Linked DNA regions of Homo sapiens: region 1 is linked to region 2. Evidence: fine-mapped expression QTL. A gene starts in region 2. The other region holds a variant in brackets. All regions are shown on one strand. Distances are between the middles of the regions. Region 1 overlaps FAH (fumarylacetoacetate hydrolase). Region 2 holds the start of FAH (fumarylacetoacetate hydrolase).

Region 1 (4,372 bases), 26 kb after region 2:
TTGCCCAGGCTGGAGTGCAATGGTGCGATCTTGGCTCACCACAACCTCTGCCCCTGGGTTCAAGCGAGTCTTCTGCCTCAGCCTCCTGTGTAGCTGGGATTACAGGCATGCGCCACCATGCCTGGCTAATTTTGTATTTTTAGTAGAGATGGGGTTTCTTCATGTTGGTCAGGATGGTCTTGAACTCCTAACCTTAGGTGGTCTACCCACCTAGGCCTTCCAAAGTGCTGGGATTACAGGCGTGAGCCACCATGCCCGGCCAGCTCCATTTCTTTCTTCTGTCTGCTCTGTCTGTACACTCCAGGCTTTGCCATGTCTGTCTCACTGTCAGTTCCAGGGTCTCGGCCCTTCATGAGGTGGTTCCTGTCAGGAGGCGCAGTACACTGCAGGAGCTGTCGCCATGGGAGCAGGATGCTCCATGGAGAAAGAGCTGTCACAGAGAGCCTCCTGGCTGCCCAGGGCCCTCTGGGAAGCTGTGCTGGGCCCGCTCTTTCAGGTTCCAGGTCAGGAAGCTGAGGCTCAGAGAGGAAAAGGATTCACCCCGAGCCACCTACCTGGCTAATGGCAGGGCTGGGACTCAATCCAAGTGTGTCACAAGTTCTAGGTTGGCCTCCTGCCACCCACAATGCGTGCTTGGAGTATACTTTCTATCTGGTTTTGTCCTCAGTATTCCTGGCTGCCTAGAGGTGAACCTGCCCGCCCGGGGGAGGCCACTGGTAGAAAAGGGACAAGATTATCCAGAAAGCACAGTGTCCAGAGATGTAGTCCTGCATTTGCAGTTCTGATGTTCTGAGTTGGGATCTGGGCGAAAGGGTCTGGGGAGGAGCAGCCTTGGCAGACCCAGACCTCGCATGGCTGAAGAGCACACCTGTTCTGTGCCACCTCAGAGGGGAAGTTAGGACCAAGGGAGGAAGCCAGGTTTTGAGGGAGCAGAGGAGCTTTCTACTTATTAGTGCTGTTCAGAAGTGGAACGGCAACAGCCCGGTACCTTGCATGTAGTAGATGTTTAGTAAATATTGTTTAGTACGTTGTGAAGTAGCACACTGCCCATCACTGGAGGAGCTCGGCAGGGGACAGATGACCCAGCTATCCAGAGGACTCCTGAGGGGACAGCAGGTTATCCTTGATCAAAGGTCACAAGTAGCTTTCAAATGGCACACTATCTTTAGTGGATTTGCGGGTGCCAGGATCACTGTGTTAAGAAGGATTCTGAGGCTACATATGGACTCAGAGCAAACATGTGCTGTGATCAATTAATGCTGCCTGCTGTAGGCGTGGGAGGAGGAAGTGATGACTTGTGTGCATGTATTGGCCAACCCTGGACCTCCCAGCTCTGATGTCCTAGGAGCTAATTGTTTCACAGACTCTAAGTGAAATCATGTTGGACAATGGGAAGCTTCAGCCACAGAACAATTCTTTTTTTATTTTCCTCCCTGATGCATGGAATTAAGTTTTCATCAATATTGCTTTTCTTTCCAACAGGAGAAGGAATGAGCCAGGCGGCTACCATATGCAAGTCCAATTTTAAGGTAAGCTTTGACGCTGATCAGACTGCTTTTTAGAATTGAGGGAAAGAGAGACTTTTCTTCCTGGCAGGAACAGGAGGAGAGCATTCCTTTTGGGATATGATGATGGGTCAGCCTGTGGGCCTGGAGCTTCCATGGCCTGTCTCTTTTAGGAGTGGCCATGGGGTCACAGAGTTCTCTCGAGATAGAGGCTGCATAAATGTGGCCAGTGATTTTCTTGGGGGAAAATAGGTGTTCCTGTAAAGGTCTAGTTCCTGGTTTATCCTGTCCTGCCAGGGGCTGTATTGATGAGAGTGACTTATTTTTTAAGTGAACTTTTAATTGAAGCATAATATACATAGATAAAAATGCACACATTACTGTAATCCCAGCACTTTGGGAGGCCAAAGTGGGAGGATCGCTTAAGCCTAGGAGTTTGAGACCAGCCTGGGCAACATAATGAGACCTTGTCTCTGCAAAAAGTAAAAAAATTAGCCGGGCGTGGTAGCATGCACCTGTGGTCCCGGCTACTTGGGAGGCTAAGGCAGGAGGATCGCTTGAGCCCAGGAGGTCGAGGCTGCAGTGAGCCATGATCACACCACTGCATTCCAGCATGCGTGACAGAGCAAGACCCTATTTCAAAAAATAAAAATTAAAAAAAGTGCATATTATACATGTACAGCTTGAAGAATTTTCCTAAAATGAACATCCCTGTGCAACCAGCACCCAGATCAGAAATGGAAAATTTCCAGCACCTCAGCAGCCCCGTGGGGCCCTCCAGGTCACTTCATCACTCCCTCCAGCAAAGGTCACTCCTCTCCTGACCTCTGCTACCATGTATTATTTTTTTTCTGTTTTTCAGTTTTATAGAAATGGCATCATAAAGTAGCATGTATTCTTTTGTAGCTGGCATCTTTGTTTTAGTGTTAGAT[C/T]TGTGAGATTCAACCCTGTTGCTCTTTGCAGTGACAGCTCATTTTTCTCATTGCCTTATAGTGTTGCACTGTATAAATATTCCACAACTGACTTAATTTTTTTTTTTTTTTGAGATGGAGTCTCGCTCGTTGCCCAGGCTGGAGTGCAGTGGCGCGATCTCGGCTCACTGCAAACTCCGCCTCCTGGGTTCATGCCATTCTCCTGCCTCAGCCTCCCGGGTAGCTGGGACTACAGGTGCCCGCCACCACGCCCGGCTAATTTTTTTTTTTGTATTTTTAGTGGAGATGGGGTTTCACCATGTTAGCCAGGATGGTCTCGATCTCCTGACCTTGTGATCCGCCCGCCTCAGCCTCCCAAAGTGCTGGGATTACAGGCATGAGCCACTGCGCCCGGCCAACTGACTTATTTTGTAAGTCACATCAATTCCACAATCGATGGACATTTGGTTGTTTCCGTTGTTTTTGGCTATCACAGAGTTACTGTGAACATTTTAGTACACACCTTTTGGTGCACATATGTGCACATTTCTATTGAGTGTATATCCAGTAATAGGCTTGCTGGGTCATAGAGTACACATAGACTCAGCCTAGGGGTACTTCCAAACAGTTTTTTGAAGTGGTTATACCAGTATATACTCCCACTAGCAGCATGTAAGCATTTTGCCTGCTCCACATCCTCGTCAGCTCTGGTGGTGTTTGCCTTTTCGTTCAAACCGTGCCTGGGATTGTGACTTCAGTTTGCATTTCCCTAATGACTAATGCAGCTGGGCATGTTAGTCATATGTTTATGGTTCATTTGTTTCTTGGCCTTTTGAATATCCTCTGAATCATTGAACTATTTCTAGTTTCCCTAATTTCCCTTCTAATTTAATATTATTCTGGGCTCCTTAGGGCTAGTAAGAAGAAATTAAGGGGCCTCCTTGCAGGGGCTCGTGGGCAAGAATCCATCTTTTGGGTTTCCTATGCCGGGATGTGTGGCTGTAGGAATGGCAATGTGAGAAGCTGTGGCCTGGGACAGGCATGGGCGTGCATTGCATCTGAGCGTCTCGGTGGGCACGTGGTGCCTTGGCCCCCTCTGCCCACAGCCTGACCGCCCACAGCTCTCCCTCGCTCCTTGGCCTGCCCTGACATCGTGTTTGAATCGTTCAGCTCCATTGCCCAGTGTCCATCCCAAGGCCCGGCATGGGAGAATGGGAGCGAGGGCTTTGCTCACGAGAAGCCTCTGCTGTGGTGTGGACTTAGATTCTCCCAATACGGGACTGGAGGGTGTTCCCAGGGCAGAGTGGAGTGTTGTACACAAGGGCATGTTGCAGGCTGAGGGACTGAGCAGTAAGGTCAGCCCTTAGGGGATGCTGCTTGGAGAAGGTGGTCAGTGTGGGCTTGAGGTAGCAGAGGAGCTGAGGTTGGAGTTTGTGAAGGAGATGGAAGAGCTTGGGGGAGGTCTCTGGGCAGCTCCCCAGGAGGACAATGTGTCCTTACTATAAGGGACTGGAGAGAGCTGGCTGGGGGAGCTGGGGACCGGGGAAAGGCCAGGGAAGGCGGTCGTGAGCAGGGCAGGCTGTGCCCAGCTGCCTCCGGGATGCTAGGCTAAGCCTGCCGCTGCTCATTCCACCTCGCGTCCATTGCCTGCAGTACATGTACTGGACGATGCTGCAGCAGCTCACTCACCACTCTGTCAACGGCTGCAACCTGCGGCCGGGGGACCTCCTGGCTTCTGGGACCATCAGCGGGCCGGTGAGTATCTGGCTGCACTGAGGGCTGCCCACGCAGAGCATCCCTGCTCCCCACACAGCCCCAAGGGCCCTCAGCTCAGCCTCGAGAAGAGATTTCAGGCCCGAGGTGGGTGTATCTCACAACTCTGTCTTCCTCGTAGCCTTTCTCTCTGGGTGCAGGAGGGACTTCTCATCCAAATTCAAACCTAAAGAGACTGGTGTG
Region 2 (4,384 bases):
TTGTTTTAAAATTCTTTTTAAATAATTGTTGTGATATACGTGGCCAACACATTCTCTTCCAAAAAATGAGAAAGAAAAAATATAGTATACTTGCAAGTTATTTCAAATGCTGTTTTCCAAATAGAGAACAGCTTTGGCGTTTTCAGACACTGTGTATAATTAGTGGGTTGGTTAAGTCTATTTTAAAACTATGAAATCTTACTCCCTCTTTAGCCATCTCATCCCCACACCCTTTCCTACACATACATCTGCCCCATGTCCTTTCCCTAAAATACTTTGGTTTTCTTTCTCCAAGGGTTTTATCATTTAGGCTTTTGTTAACTTGTATGTATTCAGTAGAAGCTCCTGGCCTAGCATCCCCCACACAACACATGCTCCATAAAAACAGGAATTAAAGATGTGAGTTGCTGGTGTATCCCCATGGCCTGGCATAGGGCATGGGCTTATTAGTTATTGCTTCATTTCCTTTTGGTCAACAGTTTTATATTAATGACATGTATTTATGGAGAACCTATTCTGTGCCAGGTGTTTTGCTGGGTATTGACAGAGTTGCACATGGAATAAGAAAGCTCGTGGTTTTAATGGGAAGGGGCAGGGCAACTACAGAACGTGGAAATAATTCATTGCGTTGCAGCTGAGGACTAGCTTGAATTAGGCAGGTATCAAGTGCTCCCTGGAATGCCTCTTTATAAGGCCACCAAGTTGGGATACTCTCCTCTTCTTTTCCTCTTTCAGGAACCTACCAGAACAAATCAGACCACCTTCATTCCCTCCCCAGGGCTGACTTAAAAGAACTGAAGCCAGTCCTTGGCAGAGCCACTCAGGGCAGGAGATGAGAGCCAAGAGGCTGTGCCCAGATTACACTCCTTACTGGGTGATGATCACTGGTCACGCCTGGTGGACAGGCACCAGAGTGATCTCAGGGGCTAGGAAGGGGGGCTCAACAGCGGGCCCTGCTTGCCGTACTCGCTCCTCTCAAGCCGTCTGGTTTCAAGCCCACTTAGCTCACATTATCCTGCCATCTTCCAGCCTCTTCTCCCTAAGCTGAAATGCGGAGCAGCCTCCCTAACTCAGCAGTCACTGTGTCACATTCCTCAAGGATCTTCAGGGAACCCTTGCCCAGACTATCGTCTACTTTTCTAGATTTCAGCCGGCATCCTGGCTGTTTAAAAGTGTACCTGAATCATTCACACCAACAATAACACAACGACACACTCTCCGGTGTGTTCCAAGTGTCCTGGCTGTGGCATGGTCTCAAAAAACTGCAGCTGACTGCACATGAGTGATTAGATAACACCTTGAACCCACCCTAAGATAGTCTGCCTTTCCCTTCTTTCCTGTCTTCCTTCTTTTCTTTCTCCCTCTCTCTCTTCTCCTATTTCTCTTTTATCTTTCCTTTCCTTTATCCCCCTCCCCTCCTTTCCTCTTTTTCCCTCCCTTCTCTCTCTTTCCACACACACATAACCTGTATATGCCAGGCACTATTCTAGGTGCTTCACAAATATTAATTCATTCCATTCTTATATCAACTTTGTGAAGTAGGAACTATTATCATCAACATTATACAGAGAAGGAAGCTGAGGTAGAGAAAGTTTAAGTAACTTGTCCAAGGTTGAGCATCTTGTCAACGTCATTTTACTACTGGCATGTGAAACAGGTGAGTTATATTTTTTAGAATATTAATTCTCATTAATTGAAGCCTTCCAAACAGGCCTAACTGTCCCCTTCTCTGACATACAAGTGGAAGTGTCATAGCTGGACGGAGCATCATGGTATGAAGGCAGAAAGGACGCGACTGGGTGTTCTTCTGAAGCTCAGGGAGCAGCTCTTGGGGAGAAAGTGTTTCCAGGAAGCGGACAAGAGTTCTGTTGAGCTGAAGAGCAGGGCAGCAGCCGGGGCGAGCGAGGCTGGAGTCATGCAGGGCAGAGCCTTAAATGCTAAGCTGGGGTTTGCTCTCGGTAGGACCAGCTAGCTGCCCCGAGCGGGGGCTGGAACCAGATCTCCCCCACGTGGACTCGCGGACAGGGCGGGGATCAGGACGGGGGCGGGGCCAGGGGAGGGGCGGGGCTCGGGGAGTGAGGCAAGACTGGAGGGCCTGGGACTCTCGGGTACCCGGGCCAGGGGAGGGGCGGGGCTCAGGGAGGGAGGGAGAGACTGGATGACCTGGGGCTTGCAAGGCGGGGCGAGGGGAGGGGCGGGGCGAGGGGAGGGGCGGGGCTCAGGGAGGGAGGGTGAGACTGTGGAGGACCTGGGGCTCGCGGGGTCGGGGCAAGGGGAGGGGCGGGGCTCAGGGAGGGAGGAGAGACTGGAGGACCTGAGGCCCACGGGGGCGGGGCCAGGGGCGGGGCGGGGCTCTGGAAGGGCGGGCGAGACTGTGGAGGACCTGGAGCTGGCGGGGGTCAGGGTAGGGGGGAGGGGCAGGGCTCGGGGTTCGGGGGCGGGGTGTTCACGGTGAGACCAAAAGTCAGGTAGGAGCCTCCGGGGTCCCTGCTGTGTCACCCGGACAGGCCGTGGGGGCGGGCAGGGGGGCGGGGCCGGGCCTGACCACAGCGGCCGAGTTCAGTCCTGCTCTCCGCACGCCACCTTAGGCCCGCAGCCGTGCCGGGTGCTCTTCAGCATGTCCTTCATCCCGGTGGCCGAGGATTCCGACTTCCCCATCCACAACCTGCCCTACGGCGTCTTCTCGACCAGAGGCGACGTGAGCAGTGGGGCTTTGGCGTCCGGGCGCGGGGAGGGAGTGGAGTGGAGTGGAGTGGAGTGGAGTGGAGTGGAGTGGAATGGAGTGGAATGAGGGGCGGGATGGAGGCTTGTGCCATTTTTCTCTTAAGATTCGTTCCGTGAGAGTGCCTATGGGCTCGAGTCCCGCCTCGTAACTTTCTAGCTGTGCACGTTGTTTAACTTTTCAGCCTCATTGTCCGCAGGTTTGCTGAGAATTAAATGCAAAATGAAATGAATCGTGTCACTCTCCCAGACAAGCAGAGCAAGCAGGATTCTGTTACCGGAAGCTGCAGCACACAGGCATGCTGCCTACTCCGAGGTGGTTGCGGTGTGTTTCTCTCGCCCAAGAGGCCAGGTCAGGGCTGGTGGTTCATCTCGCTGGATAGCCCCTAACCCTAGAACCCGGGAAATGATAACCCGGTATGCGTAGCAGGTCAGAGGGGCACGCGCGTTTCTTGGCTTAGAGTTGTGAGATCTAAGATGGCAAGTGTCTCTGCCTATAGCTGAAATTCTTTCAGCTCCTGGTGTGGGCTCCCTGGCATTCCCCTACTGATCAGAAGAAAGAGGGCAGGGAAACAAACTTTGACTAAGTCAGTGTAGTCTGATTGGTAGAAAGAAGTATTTGAAAACTGGGGGTTTATCAGCAAATAGATAATAAGAGGTTCCCTAGGTTGGAAAAGCAGATTCCCTTGGATTTGTTGATGATATTTTTGGCTTAGATTTCTGCTCCCAACTTTAAAGGTAAACTCCTGATTCATCTCTGTAAGCCATAGAACCCCAGAATCAGGAAATGTTTGCTAAACGAGGGGCCTGGCAGTTGGCTTCTTCTTGGAAAGTGGGGTTCCCTCCTTCCCCCATGGCTTGTCATTGGATGCAAGTGGCTGGCCTTTTGTGGGCCTGTCTGCGGTAAGTGCTTTGGTCTAGAAGAGTCAACTTGTGGTTTCACATCTGGCCGGGCTGACCAGATGTTGCAAGGATACAGAAAGTGGACACTCAATCCCCTGGAGGACACAATCTGAGGCACATTAAATCTTAACTTGTGATGGCCAACAACCTTTCTGCAGACAGAGCCCTCCCTCTGCCCTCCTCAAACACTTTGCCCTCGGCAGATGTGTCCTCCCTCACCTTTCCTGGGAGCACAAATCCATTAGACAGAAACATTTGTGAGAGGCAGGCACACCCCAGTAGGGAGCTCTGACTTGCTTTCTCAGGGGAATCGAATTAATATCCGTTAGAGTGTGGCTAGGTGTTTTCAGACACCATGTCCCGCTGTTTCAACATCAGAATGTGCAGGGCAGCCACTACAGATGTCTGGAAGAGAGAGCCCCATTCCGCTGTCCTCTGATACAGTGCTGGGGGTGGAGAGTTGGCCCTTTGGCCTTCCAGCTGAACAAGCCTCTTCTGAAGCTTTCTCTGCAGGCATTGGACATTCCAACCGTGATGGCTGCCTTGCCAGGCAAGACTAGTTGCCAAGGCAAAACCTCCCTTCCCCCATGTCAGCAGTCAGCCTTTCCTAATTTGAGTGGAATAACAATGAATCCTGCCATCACTTTATTCATTTTTTTTTATTCAGCGAATGCTTATGAACCCCAACTCTGGTCCAGATTTTGCCTGGGCTCCGAGTTGGCATCAAAGACACAGGAGACGCCTTCCTTCCATTTCTGGT

What was found. PIP is the estimated chance that this variant, and not a neighbour inherited with it, causes the effect.
Region 1: its variant is fine-mapped to the expression of FAH in atrial appendage (GTEx, PIP above 0.99). The same link has a PIP of 0.9 or more in left ventricle.

The regions. Positions count from the first base shown.
Region 1 is chr15:80,176,055-80,180,426 of GRCh38, forward strand. FAH (fumarylacetoacetate hydrolase) reads left to right here. Exons shown (of 14, transcript NM_000137.4): 11 at 1,483-1,529; 12 at 4,070-4,171. Among named protein-coding and RNA genes, the nearest start is that of FAH, 25 kb to the left of the region's middle. The variant C/T (reference allele first, on the strand shown) is at 2,438.
Region 2 is chr15:80,150,438-80,154,821 of GRCh38, forward strand. FAH (fumarylacetoacetate hydrolase) reads left to right here and starts at 2,562. Exons shown (of 14, transcript NM_000137.4): 1 at 2,562-2,698. The coding sequence starts at 2,618. RefSeq lists a silencer at 1,991-2,550.